2 linked regions of the Homo sapiens genome follow. The protein of the gene in region 1 interacts with the protein of each later gene in a pairwise test. Each region holds a gene or a part of one and is shown on either strand. Other genes may lie near its edges. The genes, in order: BEX4 and PKNOX1.

The links.
Region 2: the proteins of BEX4 (region 1) and PKNOX1 interact in a two-hybrid assay, tested with the Homo sapiens proteins (one large-scale study listed by BioGRID and IntAct).

The regions. Positions count from the first base shown.
Region 1 is NC_000023.11:103,213,857-103,217,947, reverse strand, and holds BEX4 (protein BEX4), read right to left. Parts: upstream 2,841-4,091; 5' UTR 2,710-2,840; intron 2,267-2,709; 5' UTR 2,184-2,266; intron 1,800-2,183; 5' UTR 1,795-1,799; coding exon 1,432-1,794; 3' UTR 702-1,431; downstream 1-701. UniProt on the Homo sapiens protein: May play a role in microtubule deacetylation by negatively regulating the SIRT2 deacetylase activity toward alpha-tubulin and thereby participate in the control of cell cycle progression and genomic stability.
Region 2 is NC_000021.9:43,009,043-43,012,856, reverse strand, and holds part of PKNOX1 (homeobox protein PKNOX1), read right to left. Parts: intron 2,805-3,814; coding exon 2,633-2,804; intron 1-2,632. UniProt on the Homo sapiens protein: Activates transcription in the presence of PBX1A and HOXA1.

The sequences.
Region 1 (4,091 bases):
TTGTGAAACCAAGTTTGCACCAAATAAGTGATTTTCATTCTTTTTTCACTGTGATCTAGTTAGAAATACATCATAAAGGTGGCAATATTTACTACATAGAACACATTATTTTCTCCAAAACAATTCTTAACACTACTCACGGGTGATAGGATGACTTTTGTTCTCTTTTTAAAAAATTGCTTGTTGTAACCCACAAAACTGATTTCAAGAGCCATAGAGTGGCAATCCTAACTTTGAACAACACTAGAGGATCTTACTTTTTTTATCCCTCAATATTCTAAAAATTAAAGTGTACTTGAGATGTAGAAAAACAGTGTATAGAAAAACAGCCCCATTCTTGCTGAGTCTCTTTTACCATCCTCAGCTTGTCATCAAGTTACAAAAGTCAAATATTCTGCATCTCCAGATGATAAGGTCCAATAGAAAATGGCCCAGGCTGGATTCCCCCACCCCCAAGATATTCAGCAGGAGTTAGCCTTGGTACTTAACATCTCTAAGCCCCAGTGACCTCATCTGTAAAAGTGGGATAACAATACAGATTTTATAGGTTGTTCTAAGAATAAAATGAGATCCTGGATGTGAAACTGCTGACAGGGGTGATGAATTCTGAGTTCCTCAGGCTGTGACCTTCAGGCATGTTTTGCTTTGCACAGTGAATAACTTTGCCACTGTCCCTACCACTCCTATAATCATCAGTCTTATTTTAAGGTCTCATACTTTTCTTTTTTAATTACTTGCCCATCAAAGTCAGATTTATCTTGATATTGTTTATTGTTTACGGTTATGACACATTATATATATACACACACACACATATGTATATAGTTACGTACACACACACCAATGGCACTGATTTTGGTACACATCAGAATTACTTAAGAGAGTTTGTTAAAAATGGAGATTCTGGAGCCCCACTCTGTGAGTCTGGACGATAGGTCCTACATTTTTAAATGCCCCTGCCTGCCCCCAAGGTGTTTTTATACAGATGGTAGACTCACTCTGAAAAACACTAGAACATACATTCTTAAAATATCAAACATTGAATTCTGGGTATGATCATTCTTTTTTGGTCAGGGACAAGAAAAAAACTGTCAAAGACAACTGAGATTTTGAGTCCAGGTAGCCGGAGGAGGAAAAGTAATACTTACAAAAATAAGGACTGGAATGAAAAAGGAAGATGATGGAATACAGACTGCTTTTTGAACTGCTTTATGCATTTCATATTATGAAAAGAGTATTTTTCCTAAAATAGGTGAATTGCCATGCTGACCGTAACTTTTAGGCTGAGACAAAACAATATTCAATTAGAATTCTAATTTCCATTAGAAACTGGTAAGTGTAAACCCCAAAAGGCTTACAGAAAAAGTAAATCACAAAAATACAAGCTTGTAAAGCAGTGTTCACATTAACCTCAGCGAAAACTTTTAGGATTCAAGGTATGAGGCAAAAGTCATAATGGTTGTCAGGTTCAGGAGTTTGGAAGCGCATATAGTGCCTCATCTGCTGTTCCCTAGTCTTTCTCTTGATTTCCATCATCTGCCCTACAAACCTTTCTACATCATCTCTCGCTTCATTGTGCTCAATATGCCTATTAGGTATGGCCCATCGAAAATTAGGGACAAGTCGCCTAACTCGCCCCCGCCTGATATTTCCTCCAGGCTTCTGGCCTTCACCCCCTCCCAAATGGCGGGATTCTTCTTCATTCTGCGTGGGGGCCTGCTCCCCTCCTTCGTTTTCTTGTTGGGCATTTTCCCCGTTGAGATTGTTTGCCGCTAGTTCCTCTTTGGACTCCATTACTCCTAGGAGACAAGAGAGAGAAAATGGGCTGAATTCTTGGTGGACTGATAAGCACTGAGGACAGAGGCCCTACTAGGCACCTTTTAAAATTCAGAGCCCTGGACTTGACTTTATACTCTAACATTTCATTTTTTTCCACCTGAGAAGCCAGTATGCCCTGTGGGGTGCCCTCAATCCGAGCCCCTCCCTTCCGCAAAGCCCACCATTTTCCCTGTAGATCCATCTCCAGGCTTCCGCAGGCAGCAAAATGGAGGACGAGGATGGCGTGTGGGAAGGGGAGGGTTGCATGGGGTAGAGGGGGGCGAGGGTGAAGGCATGGATTAGGGTCTCAGACTGGGCTTTCCTCACGTTCCGGCCCCCGCCTCACCACCGACCCTCGCACCGACCTGGGCCTATCCTTGCAGTCTCCTCCTCCGGATTCTTGACGCGAGGTGCGCCGCCGCGACACTTAGCCCCGCAGACCTGCAGACTGCCGGGGTGGGGGAAGTGGGGGCTGCTGCAGCAGAACGCTAGCTAGGAACTACCGCCATCCGGCCCCTCCCCCGCCCCGCCCCGAGGCCCTGGCCCTGGCCCTGGCCCTGGCCCTCCTCGCCACCCTCGCCCCCCGCCTCAGCCGCCCCGCCCCGCAAGCTGACCACCATTTTCTGCACCAAGAAGTGCGGGGCAGGGGTGTCGGAAAAGCTTGCGCTGATGGCGTAGGCAGGTGTTTCCGAAGGGTCGTAGCCCCAGGACCGCCGGCTCCCTCCGGGCCGGGCACCTCTCCGCTCAAGGAAGGCTCGCGGGCCCGCCGCGGGGCCCGGGGGCTGCATCGCGGACCGATTGCTTCTCCGCACGGCTCCCCCGGGGTGGGCATCCGCAGGCCGGAGCCACTCCCTCACACCAACCCCAGGGACCCCCCGCCGGGTTCCTTACCTGCTCCCCCTCCGCTTCCTAATTTCGGGGCCGCCCCTGGCCCACACGTCCTCAGGGCCACCGGGAGCAGGTACCACCGCCGAGAATGGAACGAGCCACGACGGCTCTGACGCCAGAGCGAGACAACACTCAGTGTTGGCCGGTCACGTGGGGCTGTTGTCATCGCCAACGGCTCCGCCCCCGTCCCACGCCCCCTCCTGCAGCCCGGAGTCAGGCGGGGCTTTCGGGTCAGCCCCTATCCTCATCCGGAGTCTCTTTTAGTATCTCCAGACTGGCCGGCCCTTCCACTCTCCTGTCTTTGTGTATTCTTGGGACTTCCTCTGCCTCCCCAAGAGGGAAGCTGTCTTCTCAGGGAGCTGTTGGCCATTCCCACTTCTGTGGGGACTTGCCTCTCCCTGTCCTGGGCTCCCAGGATTTTCCCCACATCTCCCAACCAGGACGCGGGCGCAGAATTTAAAGGGGTGCAAAATTCCTCAGCAGTCAAGAAAAATAACATTTTAATGCAACATTTTAAAAAACAATTATTGCAAGAAAATTTATGATGAGCAAGATGTCAAAAATTTAAATAAAGAGAGCATCAGTCCCGCCCACCCCAATGGCAAACTGTGGTACTTGTTACCAATGCTCATCCTTTTCTCCACACCAGAACGTTTGGGGGGGGACAGGAAATGAGTCAAGGACAGTGGATTTTTTTTCTAATTCTTCTTAATACCTTTCTGTTCTGTTCCTTTTTTTGGGGGGTGGGGCAGAGTCTCGCTCTGTCGCCCAGGCTGGAGTGCAGTGGCGCGATCTCGGCTCACTGCAAGCTCCGCCTCCCGGGCTCACGCCATTCTCCTGCCTCAGCCTCCCGAGTAGCTGGGACTACAGGCGCCCGCCACCACGCCCGGCTAATTTTTTGTATTTTTAGTAGAGACGGGGTTTCACCGTGTTAGCCAGGATGGTCTGGATTTCCTGACCTCGTGATCCGCCCGCCTCGGCCTCCCAAAGTGCTGGGATTACAGGCGTGAGCGCCCGGCCCCTTTTTTGTTTAAGAAACAGTCTTTATAGTTTAACTTTATCTTAACTTTAATGGAAAATTTCGAACATTTGGAAAAATGGAATAGTATAATGCAAACCCCATGTACTAGTCCTCACTCAGATTCCACAGTTAACAACTCATGGCCAATCTTATTTCGTCTTTATCTTACCCGCTTCCCAACCTTAAAATTATTTCTGAAGCAAATTCTAGACATAATATCACTTTAGGCATAAATATTTCAAAGTATGTATCTACAAGATAAGGGTTTTCTTCTTTTTAGCATATAACCACAATACTGTTGTCACATTTAATAATTCACAATTCCTTAATATCATTTTATGTCTAATCTGTGTTCAAATACCCA
Region 2 (3,814 bases), on another chromosome or scaffold:
GACAAAGGCGCGTGGTGGTGACCTCGGTGCATCCCAGTGCTAGGTGTGTGGGCTGTGAGCCAAAGCCTAGCCCTTCCACTGATTCGCTCTGTGGCAGGCAGGACAAGTGACTCACCCTCATCTACTCCTGTTTCTACATCCACAAATAGTGATACATCCACACTCACCCTAGGCTAGTGCTACATTTTCATAAAGTTCCATTTTGGTGTCTTTGCCTAGTTCTAGATCCTCAAGATTTTCTCTTGCGATTTTTCTAAAAGTTATATCATTTTGTTTTGTTTTGTTTTTTGAGACAGAGTTTCACTCTTATTGCCCAAGCTGGAGGCTGAAGTGCAGTGGTGCGATCTCAGCTCACTACAACCTCTGCCTTCTGGGTTCAAGTGATTCTCCTGCCTCAGCCTCCTGAGTAGCTGGGATTACAGGTGTGCACCACCATGCCCAGCTAATTTTTGTATTTTTAGTAGAGATGGGGTTTCACCATGTTGGTCAGGCTGTTCACGAACTCCTGACCTCAGGTGATCCACCTGCCTCAGCCTCCCAAAGTGCTGGGATTACAGGCGTGAGCCACCACGCCTGGCCAAAGTTGTATAGTTTTATATTAAGTAACTACATTTTGGGGTAATTTGTCCCACAGCAATAGATAACTAATACCAATAATGCAGCCATTTTCATAAGCACCAGCTGCCTATGAATCAGCAGCTCCGAAGCCCATCTCCTTCACCTGTAAATCTGGTGGTAGGAATTCGTAGGTATCTATGCAGTGAATAAATGAATCACTCAGTAACAAAAATGATGGAGTGTCAAACTCTGCTAGGCCCTGTGCTAAACACTCACCAGTCAAGAGAACCTTGGTCCCTGCCAGCCTAGTGGGGTGCAGAGGACACCTGTGCTCTACTCACTGGGCCAAGCCAGGTGTGGGCCAATGGGAAGATGGATGTGGACCACAGACTCAGGGGTGGAGAGAGCATCGGATCCTCACCCAAAGAGCATGCACTGTTAGTCTCATCTCAGAGAGGAGGAGACAGATTCAAGTCAGATAACTCACCCACAAAATCTGTTTCATGGTAAGCATCGAGTATATAATGAGAATTTTCTTAAAAACTAAGACCTCAGCAATTTATTCAGGAAAAATGAGTTTTCCAAAAACCTTTTCTGTTGAAGGCCCTAACCAGGGTTTTGATATGGGACCAAGATGGCTCGAAGGGAATCCAGTGAAGGTTCCCTGATGCCGGATCTTTGTGTACCCAGCTCTGAGAAGTAAACACGTGGTTACACTCTGGCAGGAGAGCACACCCAGAGAGTGTGGTCTGCCCAAAGCTGACAGTGCTGTACAGGTGCCTCAGGTGCAGCTCATTCAGAGCAATCCAGTGATGACGGAACCAAGATGTTCTCCATTGCCTCTGGAGGGCACAGAAAACGCTGGATTTTGGAGCCCTGGCCCTGGGGGGAGGGCATCACAAATCACTGTCAGCCTCAAGACAGAGCTGTCGCCGGGCGTGGTGGCTCACACCTGTAATCCCTGCACTTTGGGAGGCTGAGGCAGGCAGATCACAAGATCAGGAGATCGAGACTATCCTGGCTAACACGGTGAAATCCCGTCTCTACTAAAAATACAAAAAAAATTAGCCGGGCGTGGTGGCGGGTGCCTGTAGTCCCAGCTACTCGGGAGGCTGAGGCAGGAGAATGGCTTGAACCTGGGAGGCGGAGCTTGCAGTGAGCTGAGATCACACCACTGCACTCCAGCCTGGGCAACAGAGCGAGACTCCGTCTCAAAAAAAAAAAAAAAAAAAGACAGAGCTGTCTTGGAGAATACAGCTCAAGTCTGTGTCCATGTCCATGATAAGCCAAGGACAGACACAGGTCACAGACATGCCACCCGAACACCCCAGCCCTACGGACCTTTACAAACACTGTGCAGAGAACTGAATCCCCGTGTCCATTTGGCATGGAGGCTCAAATTATTTTATTTTATTTTATTTTATTTTTATTTTTTGAGACAGAGTCTCACTCTGACACCCAGGCTGGAGTGCAGTGGCACAATCTCGGCTCACTGCAACTTCCGCCTCCTGCGTTCAAGTGATTCTCCTGCCTCAGCCTCCTGAGTAGCTGGGACTACAGGCATGTGCCACCATGCCTGGCTAATTTTGTATTTTCAGTAGAGATGGGATTTTGGCCAACATCGAGACCAGATGTTGGCCAGGCTGGTCTCGAACTCCTGACCTTGTGATCTGCCCACCTCGGCCTCCCAAAGTGCTGGGATTACAGGTGTGAGCCACCACGCCTGGCCTATTTTATTTTATTTTTAAAGGAAAGGGTAGGTTGGGCCTTGAGAGACTGAGGAGGGAAGATTGCTTGAGGCCAGGAGTTTGAGACCATCTGGGGGAATACAGTAAGATGTGTCTACAAAAATAAAATAAATCTAAAAATAAAAACTAAATAAATAAAAGATACCTAGAGAAGGCTGGAAGACTTGGGGATATCCACATTACACACACCATAAAAATTCTTTTAGAGTTGTATGAGTCTCTCCTTTAGCAGAACTACAAGCAGTCTAAAGTTCTACTTAGAAGCCTAAAATTTCATGAACAGATTTCACATTTTGAAAACTAAAAATAAAATTTATTTTACTTACTAAATTATCAGTTTCTGGATCTTCACAAAAGAAAGGTTTCCCTTCCTTCTCTTGCTTTCTTACAAAATTTTCGATGTCTACATCAAAACTGGCAGAAGTTGTGCCTTCAGAGCCCTGTGTAGATTGTTCACATTTTTCAAACAACAAAGCTAATAATGGAAATAGTGGATGCCTGAGGAGAAAAGAAAAAAAAGAATCCATTTACGTTCTACATCTCCGTGAGAATGTCTTTGCGTGTATGCCTGCACTACTTCACTAACACCTCTGTTGGGTGAAAATGCACACGCCACACGGTCCACCCGTTGAAAGTATGCAATTCAACGGTTTTTACAGTTGCACAGCATTGCCGCCGTCAACTTTGGAACATTTCCATGATCCCCGCAAAGAAACCCTGTATCCAATAGCAGTCATTCTCCATTTTTTCCCAGACCCCAGCCTGTTAGAACCTACTTGCTATCTCTATATATTTGCCTCTCCTAGACATTCTGTCTAAATGGGAACCGTCTAACCTGTGACCGTGGTGTCTGGCTTGTTTCCCTCAGCATAAAGTGTCCAAGGCTTACCAGTGTTTTACGGGTATCAGTACTTTATTCCTTTTTTTTTTTTTTTTTTTTGAGATGGAGTCTCACTCTGTCGCCCAGGCTGGAGTGCAGCGGCACGATCTCGGGTCACTGCAACCTCTGCCCTCCCAGGTTTAAGCGATTCTCCTACTCAGCCTCCCCAAGTAGCCGGGACTACAGGCACCCGCCATGATGCCCAGCTAATTTTTTTTATTTTTTGAGATGGAGTTTCGCTCTTGTTGCCCAGGCTGGAGTGCAATGGCGTGATCTCGGTTCACCACAACCTCCGCCTCTCGGGTTCAAGCGATTCTCCTGCCTCAGCCTCCCAAGTAGCTAGGACTACAGGCATGCACCACCATGACTCGGCTAATTTTGTATCTTTAGAGACAGGGTTTCTCCACGTTGGTCAGGATGGTCTCAAACTCCTGACCTCAGATGATCCAACCGCCTCAGCCTCCCAAAGTGCTGGGATTACAGGCGTGAGCCACCATGCCTGGCCTAGTTTTTGTTTTAGTAGAGACAACATTTCGCCATTTTGGCCAGGCTTGTCTCGATCTCCTGACCTAAAGTGATCTGCCCGACTTGGCCCCTCAAAGTCCTGGGATTACAGGCATGAGCCACC